Regions from separate parts of the Homo sapiens genome. Here region 2 is linked to region 1. Evidence: fine-mapped expression QTL. A gene starts in region 1. The other region holds a variant in brackets. All regions are shown on one strand. Distances are between the middles of the regions. Region 1 holds the start of NRP2 (neuropilin 2). Region 2 overlaps NRP2 (neuropilin 2).

Evidence for each region. PIP is the estimated chance that this variant, and not a neighbour inherited with it, causes the effect.
Region 2: its variant is fine-mapped to the expression of NRP2 in monocytes after interferon gamma (Fairfax 2014, PIP 0.95). The same link has a PIP of 0.9 or more in monocytes after LPS.

Annotation. Positions count from the first base shown.
Region 1 is chr2:205,677,422-205,689,104 of GRCh38, forward strand. It overlaps NRP2 (neuropilin 2), which reads left to right and starts at 5,080. Exons shown (of 17, transcript NM_003872.3): 1 at 5,080-5,942. The coding sequence starts at 5,870. RefSeq lists enhancers at 994-2,193, 7,075-7,705 and a silencer at 4,481-4,600.
Region 2 is chr2:205,740,010-205,751,692 of GRCh38, forward strand. It overlaps NRP2 (neuropilin 2), which reads left to right. Exons shown (of 17, transcript NM_003872.3): 8 at 510-654; 9 at 3,194-3,543; 10 at 5,737-5,881; 11 at 9,716-9,832. Among named protein-coding and RNA genes, the nearest start is that of NRP2, 63 kb to the left of the region's middle. RefSeq lists enhancers at 6,628-7,179, 8,146-8,769, 8,770-9,393, 9,394-10,016. The variant T/G (reference allele first, on the strand shown) is at 5,769.

The DNA of each region.
Region 1 (11,683 bases):
TAACAGAATTTTCAAGGACACCCAAGTAGAGACTGAAGGTCCAGCTGCCCTGTCCTCAAGGCTTCTGCTGCCCCCACCTGCTTCTCCGCGGTGGTCTCCACTGACGAGTGGAGTTGAGGCCCGAAGCTGGGAGAGCATCATAAAGACCCTGACTCCTGGTGAGTGCTCTGGGAAAGTCATCCAAGAGAGCGTAGAAAGAACATGGGATGATAGACAATAATATGAATATAAGCTAGCTCTTCTCTTCCTTAACCAAACAGACAGTGAGCATTTTCAAATGCTGCCTTGGTAATCAGAACTTCTGCTGATACTGGGGTTCCTTTCTTGGCAAACAAGTATGGTAACCACAGAGATTGATAAGGGTGTGAATTTCTATGGGTTTCTATGGGAATTATTCAGCTCTGGTCTTTTGATTCTGAGGCTGAGTTGTCCAACATGGTAGCTGGTAAGCACATGCGGCAATTTACATTTAAATGAATAAAATTAAATACAACCTACAGTTCAGTGACTCACTCACACTAGCCACATTTCCAGTGCGCAGTAGCCATGTGAACAGCACAGAGACCACCGTCCTTGCAGAAGATTTAATGGAGAGTGCTGTTTTAAGGGAGAGGGTTGACTGGGTCTTTTTGATACGCTTATTGCCTCAAAGGTAGAAAAATTAATGTAGCATAGGAAGATCAGACTCATGCTAAAGCCAGGCAGACTGGAAGAAGCAATAGGGCTTCTTTAGGTTCTTTTTCCAAGGATTCCAGGGAGGTCTGAATGAATTTTGCACATTTTGCTGCTGCTTTTTAAATTTTGTTTCATAAGGGCCCCTCCTACCAGATCCAGTGTTTGTGTCTGAGGAAGAAATGAGATATACACCCAGTATGGAGTGAAGGAGATTTCAATACTTTATGGAAATCTGTAAGGATTCCAGAAACCCACCAAATAGAATATACTAGAAATATCAATTTAGAATAGAAATGTCAAATAGAAACTACTGGGCAATATTCAAGTGTGCTGGAAAAAAAAAAAGTTGATTGTTTAAAAGGCGAGTAAGAAAAAAAAAAAAACCCTTAGTGACCAGAAACCTGGACTTTGACATCAAACAAAAGAGAGAATAATAAATTAGGACCTATTCCATTTTAACTGAAGCTTTGCTTCTGAGACAGATGTAGCTAAACCTTAACTAGGGCAGTGTGTTAAATTACAGATTAAGATGCAATTATGCCTTAGATCTTTCCTTTTCAGGGTGAGAGCTTATTGATGTTAGGGCTCCGATAAGGGGAAGCACCATGTGACACGTGATATCTATTGTGGAAGCATGAAACTTCTGGAGCTTTTAGATCCTGTGTTCCCGAGAGGCAAGACCTAAATCTCTGTCTTGCTCGCATACCTCTGGCATAGTCATGCATCCATGAACATTTCGTAAGTACAGTGGGATGAACACAGATGGAAAAGCATACCTGAAACGAACCTCTAGTAACCACCAATGGTTGAGTGGGCTGGTGATGAAAGGTCTGGCTCCAGCTCATAAACCCATCAGCCGCTACTTTGAACATGTCCCTGCAAAGCTCCTGCCTGCATGAGGCGAGGCTTTTGGTGTTTTCAAATTGGCTCTCTGCAGTTGCTGCTAAAGGTCACAGGTAAATCTGGGAATTCCACCACTGCAGCATTTTCGAGAACTTGTTCTTGGTGGTTTTTCCAAGAAACCTGAAACATCTGCCCCATATTGAAAAGTACCCAGAGAGGAAATGTGAAGGAATGCTTGTCCAGGTTTCCTTCAACGGAAGAGCATTTATGGAAGGCTGTGTGTAAATAGAACACATCAGATCAGAAGTTCCCAACTACTGGTCTGTGGAGGCTTTGCATCAGAATCACCTAAGATGTGTGTTAAAAATACAGATTCCCAAAGACCACTCCAGACCCAAGGAATTTCACCTGCAGGAAAATGGTTCCCAGGAATCAGAATTTTTAACACTTCCTCCAGGTGATGCTGATATACCCTAAGGTTTGGGACTGTCTAGCTGGGAACACTTAACTTTCCACAGGGGTGTGGCTTGGTAACAGCTTTCTCTTAGCATCATTTACCAACCTGTTTCATGTTCCCCCACATCCCTTCCCGTCAAAGGAATGGAATGTGGAGTGGATTATCTAGTATTATTTTACAACTAAGGATAATGACATGAAACATCCTAGGTGAGTCAGTGATGTGGCCAGGAATCTCAGCTTCGCTAATTAGCTGTTATCTAGTCAGCTCAGTGTTTTTGATCACAAACCCGATTTTTGACACTGGCCTTTAGGTAGGCAGGCTTCCCTATGGGCCAGGGATGTGGACTCACAAAATACTGAAAAGCACGGTGCCTACCTAGCTCTTTACCACTATACCTCTGGTGGAAACCAGACCAACTGCAGTCAAACCCTGAGATCCCAGTCTAGAGGGAAACAAGACTGGCAGGTCTGAGCCAGTCCCAGTGTGAAGAATTTCCCTAAAGATTTGTTTTCCATGTGGCACATGTGAGATTTGTGTTTAGTTCCCAAGAGTCCTTGGAAGTCTTAGGTTAAAACAATTCTAAGCCCTCTCTGGGCCGGTGGGGTCTTGTTCAGAGTAGGCTGGGGAGAGATCGGCCTCACTCTGAATCTTCCCTGGTCTGATAAAGCACTTTGAACTCCTTGGAATTAAAAGCACCACCAGAAGTGTGACCCTGGGTGGTGTTACCATTATTTATTGAGTGCTGCCCCCTAGAGGATTGAAAAATGGTCTGGCCGCTTGAGTCCCCAGGGATGGAAACCTGAGACTCACTCTCTGTCCAACTGCAGGAAATGAGGCCTTCACTCAAGGGGAGTGGGAAGTCTTGCAGCCCTGGTACAGAGGACTCCCAGGAAGTAAGTGAGCGTCCCCTGTAGGACACCGCTGAAAAATGAAAAGTTACAGTGTAGGCAACCAGGCCAGGAACAAAACTGATTCTTACTTTTCTCTACTCTGGAAGCAGCCTGATGGGGACCTTCATCCCTGAGACCCCAAGACCAGAAGTCCAGGGTTGTCATTCTTATGGTTCTCCAGTGGGCTTAGGTTTACCTTTTCTCTCTTCTTTCCCCCTTTCACAGTGCCCTTCACCTAAACCCTGGCTACATTATTCTCACAAACAGGAGTCTCCCACATTGGGCACTGGCAAAAATGGTTTGGCATGCCTGGTGAGTGGTGGGGAGAGGTGATATTAAATGGCCCTCTCTATTCAGGGACTGTCACTACAGATAGCGTTCTTTGTCCTTAGATTAGCATCTTGGCAATGACATAAACCGGGATCTCTGCTTAAGGTTAATAATCCAAACTGCTCTTTTACTTTGTTAAATATTTAAGGCTTGGAGTCATTCTTTACAATTGAGCTTTAAAGAGGAGAAATGTAAATCTGGAGTTTTTAATAATGTGGATGTGCTCTCAAGCCTAGAAAGGAAGGAAGAAGGAAGGAAAGGAGGGAGGAAGAGGAAGGAGGGAGGCAAAGAGGGAATGAAAGGTAGCATTTAGGCTAGCCAAGAGACATGCTCCCTGGAAGAACTCAGAGGCCTCTGTGCTGTGCCTTTCCCAACCAGGCATCTGAGATTAACAGTGTGATACTCAGCCTGTGGATTTCCACTCTAAAATCCCGCGCCACCCCCCAACACAGCTTGGCTCAACTATTTGCAAATCACTTCTGATTCAATTTTGTTTTGGTTATCTCAGTGTAAATAACAGTTAAGTGGGAGTTACAGATTTTTCAAACACTAAAAGTGATAAAGCTAATGGGCAAGTCCAGATAAGGAGGGAAACCACCCAGAAGAATCCACAAGTACAAGCCAAGAAGAAAATGGGTAGTCAGGTGTGTGTTTCTCGTCACCGAAACTGTATTTTTCTTAATCTACAGAAAATTTTACTTTCTTAATTTAAAAAAAATCTTAATCTGTAAATATTTTTCTGAATTTTCTTATTTTTCATATACCTCTTTTGTGGCAGAAAAGGTGTACATGTGCAGGGTGTAATTTAGGCTGTTTCTGTTGCAGTCTTTATGATAATGTAGTAATAGGTGTCTGGTGAAGCAAGACAGTTTGGAATCCACAAAGCCATCCTCAGAAACAAAGATACAAGTGTTTCCCCAACTGTTAGCTTGCAGTTCCCTCTAAACAGTTTTCACGCCTCCATTTAAAAATAGTTGGCATAATGATGTTTTCTTTCTCTAGGCTTTGTGACCACGTTTCCATGGGGGAAAATGTGAATAGACGTAGTTACAGTAGCATTTGGATGAGACGCCTTCAAGCACCTATACTTTTTCGGGGGAACTTGATGGAATCCAATTTAATTACCTGAAGAAATTATTTGCTGAAGAAAGTCTTTCCTCTTTTTAGGGTAGTTACAGTTAAAGGCGCAGGGGTAACGAAATCCTAACCCAGAGAGGAGCAGAGCATGTTTGGGACATAACAAAGGATCTGAGTAGTAAACGCAGCGAGTGTTTGGGGTTTTATTCAGACCGGGCTGACGGTGTGTGTCGCCGCCACGCACCGCTGCCTGTTCGAACGCATGGCTGAGCTGCCGACCGGCTCGCTACCCCAAACACCGTACGCCACCCAACTCCTCTTGTAACGCCATCGCGCGTGGCATTGTGTTGGGTTCTGCGTGTGTGGCATCGGAGTCGTGGAATTTAGGGGGAACAAGGCTTTTCCCCCCGTCCCCCCGGGGTCTCCCTTGGGTGGGGGCGACACGGCCAAGGCGGCGCGCCCTGGGGGTGCCCGGGGGCGCTTCTTCCCCAGGGCGTTACGCACCGGCGGCCCGGCGCGGAGGTGCGCGGGGGCGATCGGGAGATGCGGGGCGGGCGAGGGGTGGTGGGATGGGCGCCGCCTTAACTTCGATCCTGCGGCGGCCCGAGAGAAGCCGTCGCCGCCCCGCCCGAGCTGGGTGCCGCGGCACTCTGCTCTGCGCCGCGCGTCTCCGCGGCTGCCTCTTTAATCAGGAACACAGAAGGGGCGGGCCCTGAGCCGGCGCGTAATCGGATAGCTCTGCCGCGGCTCTGACATCCACATGCTGCTCGGCCTGAAAAGGCAGTGGGGAGCCGGAGGGGAGGCAGAGATCGCGAGCGAGGCACCAGCCTGCAGCCGGCCCCCAGCACATCCTCAGCCGCACAGACACTCGGCGAGGTGGAGGTGAGGGCGGGCGCCAGCGAACTCGGAGAGGGGCTCGCTCACTCCCAGGCGATCCCAGCCGCCACCGCCGCCGCACCAGCAGCAGCAACAGCAGCAGCAGCTTCCTTCCTCAGACTCCCCTCGAGAGGCTGGCCAAGCGGGTGTAGCCGTTGGGGGAGGCTCCCGCCGGGGGAACCCGGCGAGGACAAGAGCAGGGCGGCCGCCTTCCACTCGGGCTGTCCGGCGGCGGCTGCCTCCGCCCGTGTGTCCGTCAAGGGTGCCGCGGGATGTGTGTCAGTTTACGCCTCTGAGATCACACAGCTGCCTGGGGGCCGTGTGATGCCCAAGGCAAGTCTTGGTTTTAATTATTATTATTATCATTATTGTTACGCTTGGCTTTCGGGAAATACTCGTGATATTTGTAGGATAAAGGAAATGACACTTTGAGGAACTGGAGAGAACATATATGCGTTTTGTTTTTAAGAGGAAAACCGTGTTCTCTTCCCGGCTTGTTCCCTCTTTGCTGATTTCAGGAGCTACTCTCCTCCTGGTGAGGTGGAAATTCCAGCAAGAATAGAGGTGAAGACAAGCCACCAGGACTCAGGAGGGAAACGCTGACCATTAGAAACCTCTGCATAAGACGTTGTAAGGAGGAAAATAAAAGAGAGAAAAACACAAAGATTTAAACAAGAAACCTACGAACCCAGCTCTGGAAAGAGCCACCTTCTCCAAAATGGATATGTTTCCTCTCACCTGGGTTTTCTTAGCCCTCTACTTTTCAAGACACCAAGTGAGAGGCCAACCAGGTAAGCCACTGAAAGTTTTTCTATTTATTGCAACATGGTTTCCCCTTTAAAAGTGACCGCTAAAGCAGGAAGGCCACGCAGAACGGCACAGAAGAAGGCTCCCTCAGTACTCAATAATTTAAAGAGAGATCCCAGCCGGCCCTTCCTACACCACCACGGCTGCTAAAACCCAACTTTCCTCTCCTGCTAGGAGTGTGTGTGTGTGTGTGTGTGTGTGTGTGTGAGTGTGTTTTGAAACAGAATTTGGCGGTGTTCATATGTCACATATGGACTGAATCAAAGGTTTAAAAATACTACAAAGCCTTTGCATTACAGTTTTTGGGAATTTTTTTTCCCTGTCTTGAAGCAGAACACATCTCCCTTGAGTTTCTCCAACTAGCCAGTGAAATATAAATCATTTGCATTCCCTCCACTTAGCTACATTGAGCAATGTTAACTGAAGGGCTTGGGAAAGACAAGAGTTTAGTTTTGGTTTTCAGATGCTGTAGATTCTTTGGAGAATGACTGGTTATGCTTCAGAATCATAAGGCTCAGGCTGGTGGAGCAAGTTGGCTTGTGGCTGAGATAGGGGCTTGGGGTTGGGTGCTGCTGGCAACCAAGACGGTTGGTCTCTTCTCTCTTCATCCATGTGTTGTCTGGGAAAGTAAATCGTACGTTCTTTTAGAAATTATTATTAGCTAAAACAAATTGCAGGCCCTCGAAGGTCTCTCACTCTTGTGAAGTGGTTAGAAACTTTTGAGTGGAATTTGTTCTCAACCACTGCCAAAAAGGGTGTGTGGACAGGCTGCTGTGGAGATAAGCATTTCGAGGCCCAGAACAGTCTGGGGACCGCATTTGTGGGGAGCGGCAAGGGGTATGCTCTGGAAAGGGGAATCCATGGGGAATGCAGTGGGGTTTGTGCTTCCTTCTCGGACCACTCTCTAGAGTGAGCCTCCCTACCCCTCTGAGAACAGTGTCTGGAATCTAACAACAAAACTCTTAGCAGCTGCTACAGGTGATTGGAGATGGAGAAACCATCTATGGAGGAAATGGGTGAAAGAAAGGCGAAAAAGCCTTCCTGAAGTGCCCTCACCCAAGGCACTTGCAAGGCGATGGCGGCAGTGGTAGAGCTAACTCTGCAGCCTCCTTGGCATCCCCAGAACATCAGCTAGTGGATCCTAGCCTTGCATCTGGTACTGTCACCCTTCCTTCTCCTCACGCCCCCCACCAGCACACACACCACTTTAAGCTTGGGCATTTATTTGAGGGGGGAAGAAAATTCAGGAATGCCTTTGCCACCCAGATCCGCACGTTTGCAGCTCTTTCTTTGCCATAAGTGGTCTTCAGGGCAGCTGCAAATCCTGCCAAAGGGATGGGTGGGGGTCCCACTTGGGGAGATTTTCTGGGCCTCCGCCGTTCCCCCTTGCCTTATTTCTAAATTCCCAGCTTGAAGCGGAATTAAATTACCACTCACAGACCTGGATGCTGCGTAAATTATGTATGTTTGTGTGATTCGCTGTGTGTGTGTGCACACGCGCGCGCGCCGTGAGGATGCCCACAGTATATTATGTATTCAGACACGGACTCCAGTAGGCCCCAGCGCGCGAGCGCGCACACACTGGCACTCACACTGGCGCGCACACACATGCAACTTCAGGTTCCGTGTGCTGTGCGGAGCGGGAGGGGTCGTGAAGACTCAGGGGCCATCTCCTACCCCAGATGTTCGCACATCTGTCCCCGAGCGCTGCTTGGAGTGTGTGTACGTGTGTGCGCGACACCCGCTTGGACCCACTCCCGCTCTGCCACCTGCCTGCCGCGCTCTCTGCAGAACCCCCTCCCATCCCAATCCCCAGCAGTGCTGCGTCACTTCCAGAGAAGCCCAGAGGCGCGGAGTTCGGGGCAACCTCGGACCCGGGGTGGGATCTCAGGGTGGGATTCGAAGCTGGGACCTGCCAGGGACCTCCAGCTCCCCAAAATGCGATCTCAAGCCGTGAGCTGCTCAGGCTTTCAGGCGGAGCAAAGCACTGGCACCCTGGGAGCCGGCAGCGGGTGGCCAGGGCGAGGCCAAGCCACATACCTCTGACTCACCCGGTGTGCGCCGGCCGGGAAGGGGGCCTGGTTCAGCCGCCGCCGCCGGCGACGAGAACCAATTCTGGGAAGGAGCAAGATGGGGCAGAAGGTGCGCGCGGGGGAGCAACTGAGCAAATAACACGGCGGTCGCGGCGCGCGGCACCTTGGGCTGGCGCGTGGCTGGGAGGCCGCATGGGCGACGCGCACCAGGCTGCCCCTCTCCTCACTGCGCCGCCTCGCCAGACCGCAGTGCAGCCGCTAGCCTGCCTCCCTCCCTGCCCCGGGCGCCCCCGCCAGTCCCCTGCGCTCCGCTCTGCGCGGCAGGCTCGCCGCGACCCCTAGAGAGACGGCTTTGAGTGGCGGGAGGCCGAGGCCGGCTGGCTTGGGAATCCAAGCGCTGGCCCAACTAGGTGAGAGGAAACTGGGGTGGGATTTCGGAGAGGAGGGCGGAGAGAGGCGGGAAGGAACCAGCTTGAGCCCCAGGAATGCGCGCAACTTGCACAGCCTCTAGAAGCGCCGCGCGCCCAGCGCCCGCCGGTGCGCAGGAACAGGTGAAGAGCACGCGGCGTGCGGCCATCCACGTGGTGGGGACGTGATAGCCCCTCAGCTCTCCTCCTAGCCCTCCCTCCCCTTCCCCGCCCCCCAGCGCCTTCTCTAACGCCGCATCGATTTGTTTGGGCTACGCAGCAGAAACAGAGCCCAGCGATCCATAAACATTCTATTAAGCAAAAATATTCCCAGCGAAAGCAAAACCGAGGCTGAAGCCTCCGCGAAGTTGGCCGCCTCCAACTACTCCATGCTTGTGCCCTCCTCCTCCTCCTCCTCCTAAGGACACCCCCAGGGAAAAGCCTGCGGCATTTCTTCAACGCTGCCCTATGCCGGAAAGTTAGGTCTCGGCTGCAGCGCTGGTCTCTGGAGAAGCCTCTGCCTGCAGCCGCCGGCGAGTTCCCGCCTCCCCTCCCCAGCCGCCTCGCTCTTTGCTTTTCCACGTGAGAAAAAGAAATGTTCACGGCCGATGCTTCATTTTCACTGATTGATTTCTTTTTAATATCAACACAAGTTAATGGAGGCAAGGCGCGCTCTGATTGAAGGGCTGCCCCCGCCCTTCGACTCGGGCTGGCTGTGCCGGGGGTCTTTCCCACCGGGTCGCAGGCGTCCAGCGGCTGGGTGGCGGGCGCCGGTAGCCCTAGTGTTTGGAGGTGGGGGAGGGATTTGGAATAGACTTGTCGCCCCTCTGGGAATCATCTGGGTTGGGGAACCTTCGGGAATCAGCTTTCCAGACCAAGTTTTAGGGGATCTTGCCCATATGCGTTGCGGCTTCTGCGGCTCCGGCTGAATTTCTTCTAAAAGATAGGAGATCCACGCTCAGGTTTATTGGCGTGTGCTCCCTGCTCGGCTCCCCTCCCTCCACTTCCTGTTCTTTCGGTTTCAGACAGAGAGGAGAGCCCCCTGGCGCTAGCCATTCCCGATCAGCGCCCACTACGAACGTCCCCTTTGCTAGAGTTAATCATGATCTGCGGGGGGACTGGGTTTTGCTCAGAAAATCATTCAAGTCCTGACAATGGGTTTCTTCAAATGGTGGCAACTCCCAGGCCTAATGTCCCCACCTCCGGGACACATCGCTTGGGGCCAAAAGAACCCAGACCCCATAACCATCTACCCCTCCCCTCCTCGTCTGGAGAGCTTTGATCTATGCTTGGGTTTTAACGCCATTGCCATGGACACGCGCAGATTCTCGGTCAATTCACCCTTCCGTCTGGACTGGATGATCAGATAAGAGGTGTAAATTGGCTGTGGGAGACAGGTCTGGGTTCAGACAAATCCTGAAAGAGAAGCAATGACGGTCTAGGCGCCGGATAAGGGTTTGAAGTGTTTCTTTTAGCCTGTCTCCCCAAAATGTGAGATGGCCATTGGCGAGCATAATAATTTGCAAGTAAACTGTAAACTCCTAGATTTTACGCAGACGGCCTGCTCTGGGCTCTAGGGATTGGTCTCATGCCCACATTAAATGGGTACCCAGTAAACATTTTTCCCCCGTGATCAGCTCCTGGAGGTAGGGAAGCTGTGGCCAGTTGCCAGCAGAGCACACAGTGCAAGACAGTGGCAAGAGGAGCACTCCCCAAAGGGCCCCGGGCAGGCCCCTACTCGTCCAAGCGGTGCCTGGTGGAATTGTGAATGCGCCAGTGCACATCAGGTTTGGAGTTTTATGTCATCCCATAGAGCCCTCAGACATTAAGCTACGGAGCACTCAACTGGCAAAATGAAAGATTGGAAGGCTGCAGTGACTGGAACCCAGGCTACCCAGACAGGACTCCTGCTGTCTACCAAATGGCTCTGATCCCCTGCTGTTGAATGTATCAAGTCCACGTTCTGCAGCAGAAAGGCCAGTTCCTATCTTCCAGGCATAGAAAAAGCTAGGAATCCAAATGCCAATTCATATGCAGTGAGGCACGAATACAAATGACAGTGAGGGAGGGGTCTGGGGTCAGTGAGGAGAGACACCAGGGACCAGATGATTCTGGGGACCCTGGTGTTTTTCATTTCACTCAAGTCTTCCCTAAAGCAATCAGGAAAATGAACTGACTCAGGATGACCTGAGTGTAAGACAATTCTGAGTTGACAGAATTCAAGAGCCAGGTAAAGAGGTTTCCAAATATATTCTCCAAAGGTCCAGTTTGGAAAGACTTTAGGAACTTGAGCTGAGATCTTCCTTTCTTAAAAGATAGAGCAAAAGAAGAATATCTTTTTAATTTCTTGAACTGACAAGAAAGGACTTGAAAAGTGTCATCTGGGCAATGGCTTGTAGTGTTATTAACATATTTGAGGTATTTTATTATCTGACCATCACTTGCAACTGGATAATCTTTGAGATACCTTCCTTGAGTGGCAGATAAGTATATTGATCACCAGAAGTTAGTCTTTGTACTGTTCCTTCCAGGTAAGGACTTGGCTGTTTGCTGATTTTTGTTTTTTAATTAACCCATTTCTGGAAGATGCTGCAGAAGTTTGTCCTGGAGAGCTACAGTATTTTTCAAAGCTTTATCTGCCTTGATGAGAAATGGTCAGAGGCTTAATGGTTTCATTGCCTAACAGGATTCAGTGGAGTAGGATTCCAGGACACAGTGGCCTTGTATCATGGCTGGCCCTCCAGGAGAAAGCATCTTCTAAAGGTTTAGGAAGCTGTCAAGTTTAGATAAGGCTGAGCTCCGATCCTCTGGGACCTTGGTTGTATTAATAAGGAGAAATTAATTTTTAACCACTGGGAACATTGCCAAATTATGTGACCTTTGGCAGACCAGCTGTGCTATAAAAATAAATCCCCCATTTCTGAAAATGCTACTCCTATCCAGTAGAACAATAACAATGTGGCATTTAGGATAGAGAAGAGTAGGATTGAGAAGAAAGGAGAGAAATAGGAGTTGGCAAAAAACAAAAAAACAAAACAAAACAAAAAAAACAAAAAAACCCTTCGATGTTGTGATACATGGTTTCAGACCTGAACTTCCTATCCATCACCCGCCCTCCCCGGCCCCATGCCTAGGGTTTCCAGAACACAGGAAAGAGGGCCAGGATGACAAGGAGCTGAGTGCCTGTGTGTACAGGGAGTGGAGAAGGTGTTAAGTGCTTCCAGCCCACTCACACCCCAGCCTCAAACACATCTCTCATTGTTCACACAGACAGAGTACTGGCAC
Region 2 (11,683 bases), 63 kb after region 1:
ATCTTGTCCGCTCATGGGTGGGATGGCATCAAGTAACTAACAAAAACAACCGTGAAGCACTTTGCAATTAGAAAATGCTCTGCAAATATTCCTAGGTGCCTGCAACATGAGGAAGAGGGAGTGTCAAGTTCAAGCTAGTGAGTGAGGTCTGGTAGCCCTAAAAGATGATATTTTTACTTCATTTTAAACAGATATTCTACTTTTCTCTTTCTTCCTTAGCTTCTCAAGTGTTTTCCTTCTTCTGCCTGCTCTCAGCCTGGAGGCAAAATTTTCCTTCCCTCTAAAAGTTTCTGGGAAGACCACTGATAATTTTCAAGTAGAACAGTGTGAGAAATTAATTTTTTTTACAGTGTTTCTTTAAAAAGCCCAAAACAACATACCCACTGATTATTTTTAAGCTTGAGGGAAAGAAAATTTGACAGAACTTTCCCATCCCCTTCAAAGACTGCTCAAGTGGCTGAACTACAAACAGGGGTTTCAATAACATGGTTTTGCATCTTACGCTACAGGTATTTCAAGCCAACAACGATGCAACTGAGGTGGTTCTGAACAAGCTCCACGCTCCACTGCTGACAAGGTTTGTTAGAATCCGCCCTCAGACCTGGCACTCAGGTATCGCCCTCCGGCTGGAGCTCTTCGGCTGCCGGGTCACAGGTGAGGTGGGGGCTCCAATGAGGTTGGGGTGCTGATTGAGCCCTAGGCTCTGCTCCCTTTCAACTCTCTGCAAACAGCATGACTGCACCACATGACCTTCCCAGAAAGACTGGCTCAAGGACTCAAGTCCTACCAGAGTTTGTCTTTTCATTCATTCATTCAGTATACATTTATTAAGCATCTACGATTTCTATTAATAGCTAACATTTATGGAATGCTAACTAGGTACAGATGCCATTCTAAGCACCTAAGATGTAACATATTTTATTATCCTCATAAGGACTCCATGGGTATTATTCTCCTCACTTTACAGATGAGGAAACCAAGACTTAAAGAGCTAGGTCACTCACCAGTAAGTGGTAGAGCCATGGTTTGAATCTAGGCAGTTCCAGTCCAAAGCCCTTGCTTTCAAATAACACTCTCTGCTGCCTCAACCGGGGGCCAAGAGCTGTGCATGGTGCTGTGGACACAAAGGTGGGCACAACAGACTGTTCTGTGTGGGCATATGGACAAGTTGGGCAGACATACTGATAAACTCATAAATAAATATAAAATCAAAACTATGATCAATGTCTGGACATAGAGGCTTATGGTCCTTGGAAGTACATCGTAGGGGATTTGACCCAGCCTAGGAGCTCAAGGAAGACTTCTTTGAGGAGGTGATGATTGAGGTGAGGTTAGAAGGCAAATAACAGACATTACCTGGTGAAGAAGGGAGGGAAGGTGCACCAGGCAATGGTCACAGCTTTCTCAATGGCACGGTGGCAAGAGGGACCAAAAGAGGAAGTGAGGAGCATGGACACAGCTTGTGGGCTGAAACCCAAGGCATGTAGATTGGAGAAGACCAGAGTGGGAGTTGGGACATTATAGGAGGCAATGCAGGGGGTGCAGATGGGAGATGATGATGGCTGGATTAGCCCCAGAAATTTATGGACAGACCAATCCCCTTTATCTTGTGGGCTCAGCCCAGGGCAGGCAAGTTGCCTCTTTGACCTGGAAGTGTCTTCAGTGTACATCCATCCACGTGCCTTTCCCCTAATCATTCCAGCTCTGACAGGGAGTGCTCCAAGGTCTGACCCTGTTTGAGGTTTCTAGTTAAAACACCTTGTGTTTGTACAGTCTCTGCATCTCCACATGCCTTTCTTGTTTATCATCTTGCCTACACTTTCTAACAACCCTGTGAGGTAAGGTGGGCCAGGGACTGATAAGGAAACCAAGACTCAAAGAGGCTAAATAGCTTGCCCAAAGTCATTCAACTAGGAGGTGACAGAGCCAGGATCTGAACCCACGTTTTCTCAATTCAAATTCTCTGCTCTTACCACATTTACACAAAGACCCATTTTCTTCTAATGGGATCAGTTTATGCTAATCCTGTCTAGGGGACTATTTTCTGTCCCTTCCCTGTTGCTGTTCCAGGATAATCAGCAAAGATTTAGGTAGAGGTCATTCTCTGGAAGATTGAAAGGAGAGAACCAGTGATTTTGAAGAAGGGGAACAACGTGGAGGATCTTTTTTATCCATAGCTCAGTTTGCAAGTATGAAATGCACATTGACTATAGACCCTGCCTTGCCTGACATCATTTATTCATGCATTCTCCACTCAATCATTTGTTCCACACATCTGATGTGCCAGGCACACACTGGGAATGGGACATAGAGACAGGAACAAAATAGATGGGGTCTCTGACATCGTAGAACTTTCAGGCTACTGAGCAAGATAGATAATAAACAAATGCAAGTACTGGATAAACTAGAATGTGCACATGAAGGAAAAGAACAGGGTGCTCTGAGGGAAACCAATTTAGTGAGGATTGAAAATTTGGGAACAGCTTTTCTGTGGATATGACACTTGAGCTTGGGGGTAAGAAAATGTTAGTCTGGGGGTGACTGAAGGGAAAAGCATTTGGGGTAATGGGAACAGCATGTGGGAAGGATCCAAGGCAGTAAAGAGCAGTTATTTGGGAAGTAAAGACCTGATACTGATGCCAGGAAGGTTTCCTTCTACTTGGCAAAACAATTACTAGGAAATAATTCAATGTTTAGCTCAGTTCCCCTGTTCTCAGTGTCCCTGATAGGGTCAGTGGGGACTAGTGTCATCGACAGGGATGTGCAGACACACATTCTGAGAGTCCTTGGTTAGAGCTGTAAGCACAAATAGTTAATGGCCATTGGATACTTAAATATGCCAGGCACCATCCTGTGAGCTCTTAGTAACTAACAGAATCCTTGCAACAGCCCTCAAGAGGTAGGCACCTCTATTAGCTCCCCTTTAGATCTAAGGAAACTGAGGCAAAGAGCAATTAAATAATTTGCCCAAGGCCCTCTGACTAGTAAGTGGCAGAGTGAACATGAACACAGGCAGTCTAGCTCTGAGTCCAGGCTCTTAACCACAGTGCTGTACACATTCACCATGCAAAGAAATTAGTGCTGACTTAGTATTTGACAGTTGGGCTCTTTTGCAGCTCCCTTCTTATAGCGGGTGGTCCCTGGTTAGCAGGTGTCAGCCATGACCTCTTGTATCTTCCTCTCCTCTCTGCAGATGCTCCCTGCTCCAACATGCTGGGGATGCTCTCAGGCCTCATTGCAGACTCCCAGATCTCCGCCTCTTCCACCCAGGAATACCTCTGGAGCCCCAGTGCAGCCCGCCTGGTTAGCAGCCGCTCGGGCTGGTTCCCTCGAATCCCTCAGGCCCAGCCCGGTGAGGAGTGGCTTCAGGTAGATCTGGGAACACCCAAGACAGTGAAAGGTGTCATCATCCAGGGAGCCCGCGGAGGAGACAGTATCACTGCTGTGGAAGCCAGAGCATTTGTGCGCAAGTTCAAAGTCTCCTACAGCCTAAACGGCAAGGACTGGGAATACATTCAGGACCCCAGGACCCAGCAGCCAAAGGTAGGCTGTTCTTGGAGGCCTCTGTAACGTTACCCTCAACAGGGAGGCTAAGTGTGGTACAGGGAGTTGAGACTGATGATGTCCCATCTAAACAGTCGTCATCCAACTCCTGAAATCCAATAAAACAAATATCGTTTGAGAGATTACTTTGTGCCAGGCACTGTGCTAAATACCTTATTTCTGACTCTTTTGTTTGTTTGTTTGTTTGTTTTTGAGATGGAGTCTCTGTCACCCAGGCTGGAGTGCAGTGGCCTGTTCTCGGCTCACTGCAACCTCCGCCTCCAGGGTTCAAGCGATTCTCCAGCCTCAGCCTCCTGAGTGGCTGGGATTACAGGTGCCCGCCACCACACCTAGCTAATTTTTGTATTTCTGGTAGAGATGGGGTTTCACCGTATTGGTCAGGCTGGTCTCGAACTCCTGACCTCAAGTGATCCACTTGCCTTGGCCTCTCAAAGTGCTGGGATTATAGGCATGAACCACCGCGCCCGGCCTGGACTCTTTTTTAATCGTTACAACATCTGTGCAAAGTAGATCTTTTTGTCACTCCCATTTTAGAGATGATAAACTGACACTTGATATCATGCCCAGGGTCACACAGTTCACCTGTGATAGAGCCGATTCAGAAACCGGAAGTCTGACTCCAAAGTCCAGATGCCTAACCCCTACTGAACACTGCCTTTTTATAAAGTTCAACACTCTTTATACACTCTTTCAGATAAAGTTTCCTTGAAATTGGCCAGACATCTAAAGGGGATGTGGTTTTTGGAGGCCAAGCTATAGAAACTAGAGGATGACTTCCAAAAATAACGATGTTTTTCTGAATGTCGCTGCATTCCTTTGTATTCTCCTAGTTTTGACTGCTTAGATCTTTCCGGCCTCTCAGACTGAGGCAAGGGAGAAGCAAGAGAAACTCACCCCGAGCCAGAAGCTCAGGCCAGTACAGCTTACTCCCCTGCCACCAGAGTGAAGGTCAGCCTTCAACACAGACACAAGGAGCCCCAGAAGGGGAGGAGACGTCATACCTCTGTCCCTCCCCAGATCAGTCTCCTGGCAGGCCAGGCTCTCTGATTCTTATCTCTAGTTACCCCTTGTTTTTCTCAAAAGAACAGGTCCCTAAAAAAGGAGGGAGTTTGCATGTCTCGGGGCCACCTTTGCTAAGCAAATGTCTCCATTCTGAATACAGAGGCAAGAGTTGGGTTGGAGGTTTTGCGATGCTGAGGTAAACTCCCAGCTCTCAACTCCAGAGGCTTAGAAAGGCTCAGGGCTTGGTAACTGGAACCTTGCATCGATGGAGCAGAAGTTGGACCGCAGGCTTCCCCATGGAGAGCTGAGCCTGGTTTTTCTTGGGAAAGAAGTTGATCTTTGCCATTGTGGGAGACAGCCCTATCCGAGACAGTGCTTCTGGTTCAGAATTGTGGACGCAGGGCATCCTGAAAACTGGAGCGGTCCTGCTGAATTTCTGGGGGCTAATCAGCTGCAGGCCCTGGCCACCCACTCCTGTCCTTCCCCCGGATGAGTGTCTCCAAGTGTACTCTAGGCTGGTCCTCCAAAGCAGCCCCCTGCTCCCCGCATCATCAGTTTTATGTACTGGGGCTCCATGTGAGGTTTCTTTTGACAGGAGTGCTTTCCCTAAACAAAGGTTTGGGAAACAGTCTAAGACTATCGATGTGTGACCAGAAGACAGTGTCATTGGCCTAGGGGTCATTTTCCCGTAAGGTTCTCAGTGAGCTAGGAACTATCAGTCAGCTTGGGTTACCTCAATGGAGGCTTTCACACATTAGAAAAAGAAGTGTTCCTTTCCCTGTAGACCAGGAATTCAGAACGGTCAAAGATCGCCCAAACTGCCTTCCCCCCTCTCTAGCCAAAGTCAGCTGAAAACGCAGTTGGAGCCAAATTCTTCCCCAGATACTCCATTTTAGTCACCAGGTAAAAGACACAACCTGGAAATTGCCACCTTTGTTTACTTCCTATTTTCCATAATTCTGGGTCCATAACCACCTTCCAAATGAATAAAATCCTTGGTCTGAAAATGAAGCTCGCGTGGATCAGAATGTCCCAGTGACCAGGAATCAACTAGGAAGCTGCCTTCCTAGCAGGACGTGCGGGGCAGGGAGGAGAAGGGGAAGGAAAGGGAAGAAGGTGATAGGGACTGGGTCCCACACCAGAAGGGCTGAGTGGCCTCTCTCCCTGCAGCTGTTCGAAGGGAACATGCACTATGACACCCC[T/G]GACATCCGAAGGTTTGACCCCATTCCGGCACAGTATGTGCGGGTATACCCGGAGAGGTGGTCGCCGGCGGGGATTGGGATGCGGCTGGAGGTGCTGGGCTGTGACTGGACAGGTAAGATGACATTTCCTCCTCTTTGCATCTCACCCACATGGTCCTCTGACCCTGGCATCCCACGAGGCCCTGGGAGGGCTGTGGAGGGGGCAGCCATCCCAGGAGCTGGAAATGCTGCAGACCCCTGCCATGTTCTCCTGCCTCAGACCACGGGTACTGCAGCCTCTGGACTTGGGACAGTTTCTCAAGGGATGTACTTTGTCTTTTTTAAGGGATCATTTCAGTTCTCCAACCCGAGTCTCTCAAAAACAAATCATAACCACACACCACCCACCCAAATTCAATTAGACCCTGGCTCTTCAGGCCAGAGGGCTGTGGCTGTTGATTTAGGGAAGAAAAAAACCCCTCATGATAATAAAGTAATCGGTTTATGTCTGAATCTGGCCTCCAGATGTCAGTGGCTAAGAGACTTCATTTTCATTTCGGAGCCACATCTGTAAAAGGCATTTATTTGCTCAGGAGGGACCCTGTTGCAGGGAGCTGATGGGGGCAGGACTCCTTCTCATTGTCCTGCTCATTCCTGCCAGGTGGCCCAGGCCTTGGGGAACACCTCTCATCATTCCAAATGAGGGTGAGGCCCACGGAGGGTGCCCAGCCTTCCTGGTTTCCGAGGGAGGGCCCTGCCCTTCTGAGTCAGGCCCTACCTTCCTTTCCTTGGGTCGCCAGCCCTCCTCCCTCAGCAGAGCTGGCACCAGATCTTACCCAGAGCTCACTCACTGCCTGCCAAAAGGAGTTTGTGGGAGCCACTGGGGCTCAGGGACTGAGCCTGATGCCAGCAGGAGCAGCCACCAGCCTGAGCTATCCTGCCCTCCTCCGCCAGAGCCCCAGGTATCCCCATTTTCCTGTCTGTGCCGTACCTGTCACGGGCTCAGCCGGCAGGATGGCATGAGGGATTAATAAGGGCATGTCGGAGAAGTGCTTTTGGCTCCCAGGGAGAAAAATGCTGCCTGTATGCTGGCTACAGCAGCGCAGAGGAGCCCTGTTGAGGCACACGGGCTGGGAATTGGGCCCAAATTAGCCTCCTCACTTTTGAATTGAAGGCAGCCCCAGCGAACACATCTTCATAGGAAGACACTTAACTCCCCATTACCTGGGGATGAGGCCAAAGTTCCCTGCAGCCTGCTAAACGTGTGTCACCCGTCCTCTCACAGGTGCAGAAAACCTCCCCCCGATACAAGCTGGCTTCATTTATGTGCCCTGGAATCAGGGGCTCAGCGCTGTAGGGGATCCAGGAGCTTGTAAGCCAGTGGCTTTCACACACTTCTGCCCATGATACACAATTTAAAATAATTTTCCTTCACAACCCGCTTCACTTATAAGCACTCACACACAGTGGTGTATACGGGGTACAGTGTATGGGTAAGTGCTTGGACTCTGGAGACAGATTGCCAAGTTCAAGTCCTGCCCCTGCCATTGGCTGGCTGCATAACCTCAGAAAAGTTAGTCTCTCAGCGCCTTGGTTATCTTAGCTGAAAAATGGAGAGGACAATAGTCTGTCTACCCCATAGGGTCATTGTGAGGATTAAATGAATGAATGGATGTGAAATACTTAGACTACTGCCTGCACCCAGCAAACCTGTTATGATAAATAACTGTAACTGAAACAAAAGGTTCCCAAAGCAATGGTCATCTTAACCATGGAAGTGCACTCCAAAATATTATAGTCGGTATGTTTTAAAAGCTGGTCATGACCTATTCGACGGATTCCACAACCCAATGATGAGAGTGATGCGTGGTTTGGGAAATATCACAGACCTGGGCCAATTCCTCTTTCATAGACAAGGAAACAGCCCCAGAAGGTAGAAGTCACTTGCCAGAGGTCACTCAGCTGGATGAAGTCCACCTCATTCTTCCCCCCATCCCTTGCCCTTCAGTGCCATGCCCTCCCAGTCTGGCCAGTGGGACAGTTGCTAATGACCTCTTTCCTTCATTGCTCCCCAATCCCAACATGCCCCAAATTACACTGGTGATGGTCAGTGACAGGTTTCTTATTTCAAAGCCCTGCCTGGCCATTCCTTGGAAGATCAGAGTTGAGGAGCGTTCCCCTCTGCCCAGCCTCCTTTCCTTTGAAGTCTCTGACATCTGGTTTCAATTTCAGGGGTAGCGTTGCTGTTTGATGGGCAGTTACCTTGGAGCACCCAGTACAAACATAGTACAAACAGTATAAACACCGAGGCCTCGGTGCCCGCCGTTCCTCCACTTTCATTTACACGCCCTGCCCTCCGGTGCCTCATTGGCCCCTGGGTTTAACATTCTTTACACCAATCAGCTGACCCATTTTGCTACCTAACATTTCCAGAAACTGTTCTCCATAGGTCACGTGGCTATGTTTGCTTTTCGAATTTCCATCTGTTTCTCACACTCATCTTCGGTTCACTTCTTCATCCCTATCCCAAAGGATAACAGGAAAAATAATGGGCTGGGCTGAGCTGCTGCAGCTAAATACTTTGACAGGGCTGCTTCACCTGTTAGTTGGTTTGTGTTTCAAATAATTATGTTTTGCCTTACTGCCCCATAGTTTGCTTTACAATCGAGTTTCTATGACACAGTGACAAACTTGAACTTACAAATTAGGACACTTCGAGGTTATTTGCTATTTACTGTGAGCAAAAGGCAGACACAGCAAAGGGAAGTATGAAAGGTTATGTGCGTAGTATTTAATAGCAGAAAGGTGGGAAGCCGACCGTGAAAAAGCTATTCAGCGTATTTAGCAATTTCCTCCAGCTCCTGGCTTTATTAAATGGTATCCTGAAGGGTGCCTGACAAAGGCGCCTAATCACATACAGTAGTGCAAAGGAGCATGTATAGAAATGAGAGGGACAAGGCACTGGCATCCTGTTGGAGGACAGCTCTGGGATGAAGACACCACCCCAAAACACATGGACTTGAGCACCAGTTTCCAGAACCCCTTTCACCCCACCCAGGGCCTGACTCATAGCTCCATTCACTCCCTCAATAGTTGCTGAATGAATGACGGGCATGAGCAAATAAGCAAATGAATAGGTGAATGAATCACCTAGAGCTGAGGTCAAAACCCCCTGCCTGCAGCCAGGTTTGGCCTAGCCAGGGTTCATTGTGTGCTACTTAGTATAACATTTTTAATAAGTTGCCAACATGTAGAGTCTGGAGATTTTACTTAGGGATTTTTGCTTTCTTGTTGGGGGAAGGAAAGGGGGAAAGATTTGGAAGACCTGGCCTGGCCACACTGGGCCACCTCCCCTCCAGGCCCCAGTCTGCTGGAGCCAGTCATGGAGGCCACCTTTAAACCAGGCATGTAAGATCCCAGCTTTCACCACCTCCTCTCTCTCCAACCTTCCCCTGCCCTCACAACCACGTCTGCTTTCCTCACTTACAGTAGGTGTTTGGATCCAGGAAACACTTGAACTTGCCACACCCTGACCTAAAGACATAGCCCCAAATCACTTTCACCATGTAGGGTCTGAGCCTCTTTAAATCCATATTCCCGTCCATCCAGTTTTGTGCAAACATGAGCCAGAGTGTGCTTTGGTCCTTCCTTGGAGTCAGCGTCGCCTGTAGCCCCCTCCATTATTGTCTCGTGGCCTTTTGTGCTAAACTCGGGGCCTCTGCTGTGGAGTAAAGAATGTGGGTTTGTGTCCCTACCTCTGTCACTGCTGGTTCTGCAACCCAGGACCATTCTCATTCTACTATGGTGATGCCCCTGACTTCGTTGACAGCACACAGACATGACTTCAGAGTTCCGTGCACATGTGTGCATCTTCTTTCCCTTCTCTAGAGATGTTTGGCATCTTCCTCCTGCTGGGTTGCAACACAGGCTGCTACAGCATTCTCTTATCTTCCTTTGCCCTTACACAGACTCCAAGCCCACGGTAGAGACGCTGGGACCCACTGTGAAGAGCGAAGAGACAACCACCCCCTACCCCACCGAAGAGGAGGCCACAGAGTGTGGGGAGAACTGCAGCTTTGAGGATGGTAAGCACAAATTGCCTCCAGATGGCATGGGTGCGGACTAGTCAGAGTGGGAGCTGGCCTGTGGCTGGACAGGGACCTAGTGGTCCCCCAGATCAGAGATCCAGGGGATCTCAAAGAAGTGGTAAGAGAGGTGGGGGCACTTAGGGGTTTGGGGCAGTGGCTGTTTACAACCAATGTAGAAGCATTTGGATAGTGTAACAACCAGTACAGCCCTACTGGTGTGAACCCACTAGACATCAGGTGAGACAAGGATGACTCCAAAGAGAACTCCTCTTTTGAGGAGTCTCATTTGTTGAGCCCTCACTATCTTGCTTGTCTGCTAAAGGAGAACCATTCTTATCCTTAGAATTCACAGCTCTGATAGTTTTTCCTGTTAAGCTGTGTGTGTATGCTACAGCGAAGTGAAGATACGGCAGTCATCTGGGTGATGGAGCGCGATAGTTGGGTTAATCCAGCAGTTACCTGTGACTTAATTGTGTTTCCCTGTGTCTTTCACCGCCACCAATTTGAGAAAGTATAACAGTGATGATTCTATAAGATAGTGCACTGTATCCTCTATAACTGGAGTGCAGATCAGAGACAAAGGCGGAAATGTAAAAAGGCATCTTCAACCGTTCCCTCAAAACTCAGGGGCTCCGCATTTCTGGATGGGTCCCATCACATGGGAAATTCTTTTCATTTATCTTCGGAGTATATCCAAGTTAGATAAAAACAATAATTGGCAGAATCCAAAAGTCAGTCACATTTTAAATCATACTGCTAAAGTCACCAAGTATGAGGACATTTATAAGAAACCACAAATTTTGGAACACCTGGCATTTTGGCTAGAATGTTAAGCTTGACAGCCTCAACTTACAGTAAATTACTGATCATTATTAAATGTTCATTAAACAAAATGAGGGAAGATTGGCAAAGAGACTAGAGAAGTGATGGAGACATAAAGATATAGGTAGATGGCAAAATCTGTGGAACCTGCAAGCACAGCCGTTTGACAGTTAGAGGAACTACACTGATGGAGTGGATGACTCCAGAAAATGGCTACAAAGAAGAATGGGAGGAAAGCCAAGAATAAATGCTGAAGTTATGTGACTGAAAAAGCAATAATTTAATGCATATGCTTTGGGGATTGTGCTTTCATATTATTGTGTGGGTGGGGGACACTGTTGGTCGGGGTTAGTTGAATACAGAATTCTGACATTTTAATGAACTTGTTTTTGTTTTATGGAGAGAAGAAGGAGACTTGGAGAATCTTCCAAGACATGTTTCAGATAGTTTGAGAGCCAAAAGTGGAATGCATAGGGAGTTAACATACGATATTGGATTTACAGAGTTAGCTTGTTGGGGGACCTGGAGTGGGGGTTCTAGCTAAATGACAATCAAAGGAAAAATTAAGGGTTCTGCTGCAAAATTTCAGAAGTTTATTTTTAATATGATTTTCCCGTTTCTAGTGGTTTGTTTCATTTGAGGTTTCTTTGATGGTTCCTCCCTTTTCTTTTTGCAAAAGTTTTTTTTGTAGAATTTGGTTCCTGAGATACAGTATACATGTAAACATTACAGAGGATTTATGCTATATTGAATTACTTCGTATTTTTGAAGAGAAAAATAGAAATTCAGAAATTGTCAGGAGAAGGGGTGGTAAAGGCTAAGGGCTGACTTTTCCAAGCCACAGGTTGATGCTTCTGTAATAGATTCCATGTGTCTCTTCTAAACTCAAGCTGACTTTGGCCAAGGGTGGGCAAACATTAAATATCCTGTCCTGGAAAGGGAAGGCATTTACAGGGCCTGGTGGCAATCTTCCTCCTCCCTCTGACGCCAGCAGTGCCCTGCCCCCCATGAGGTGAGCCCTCCTCA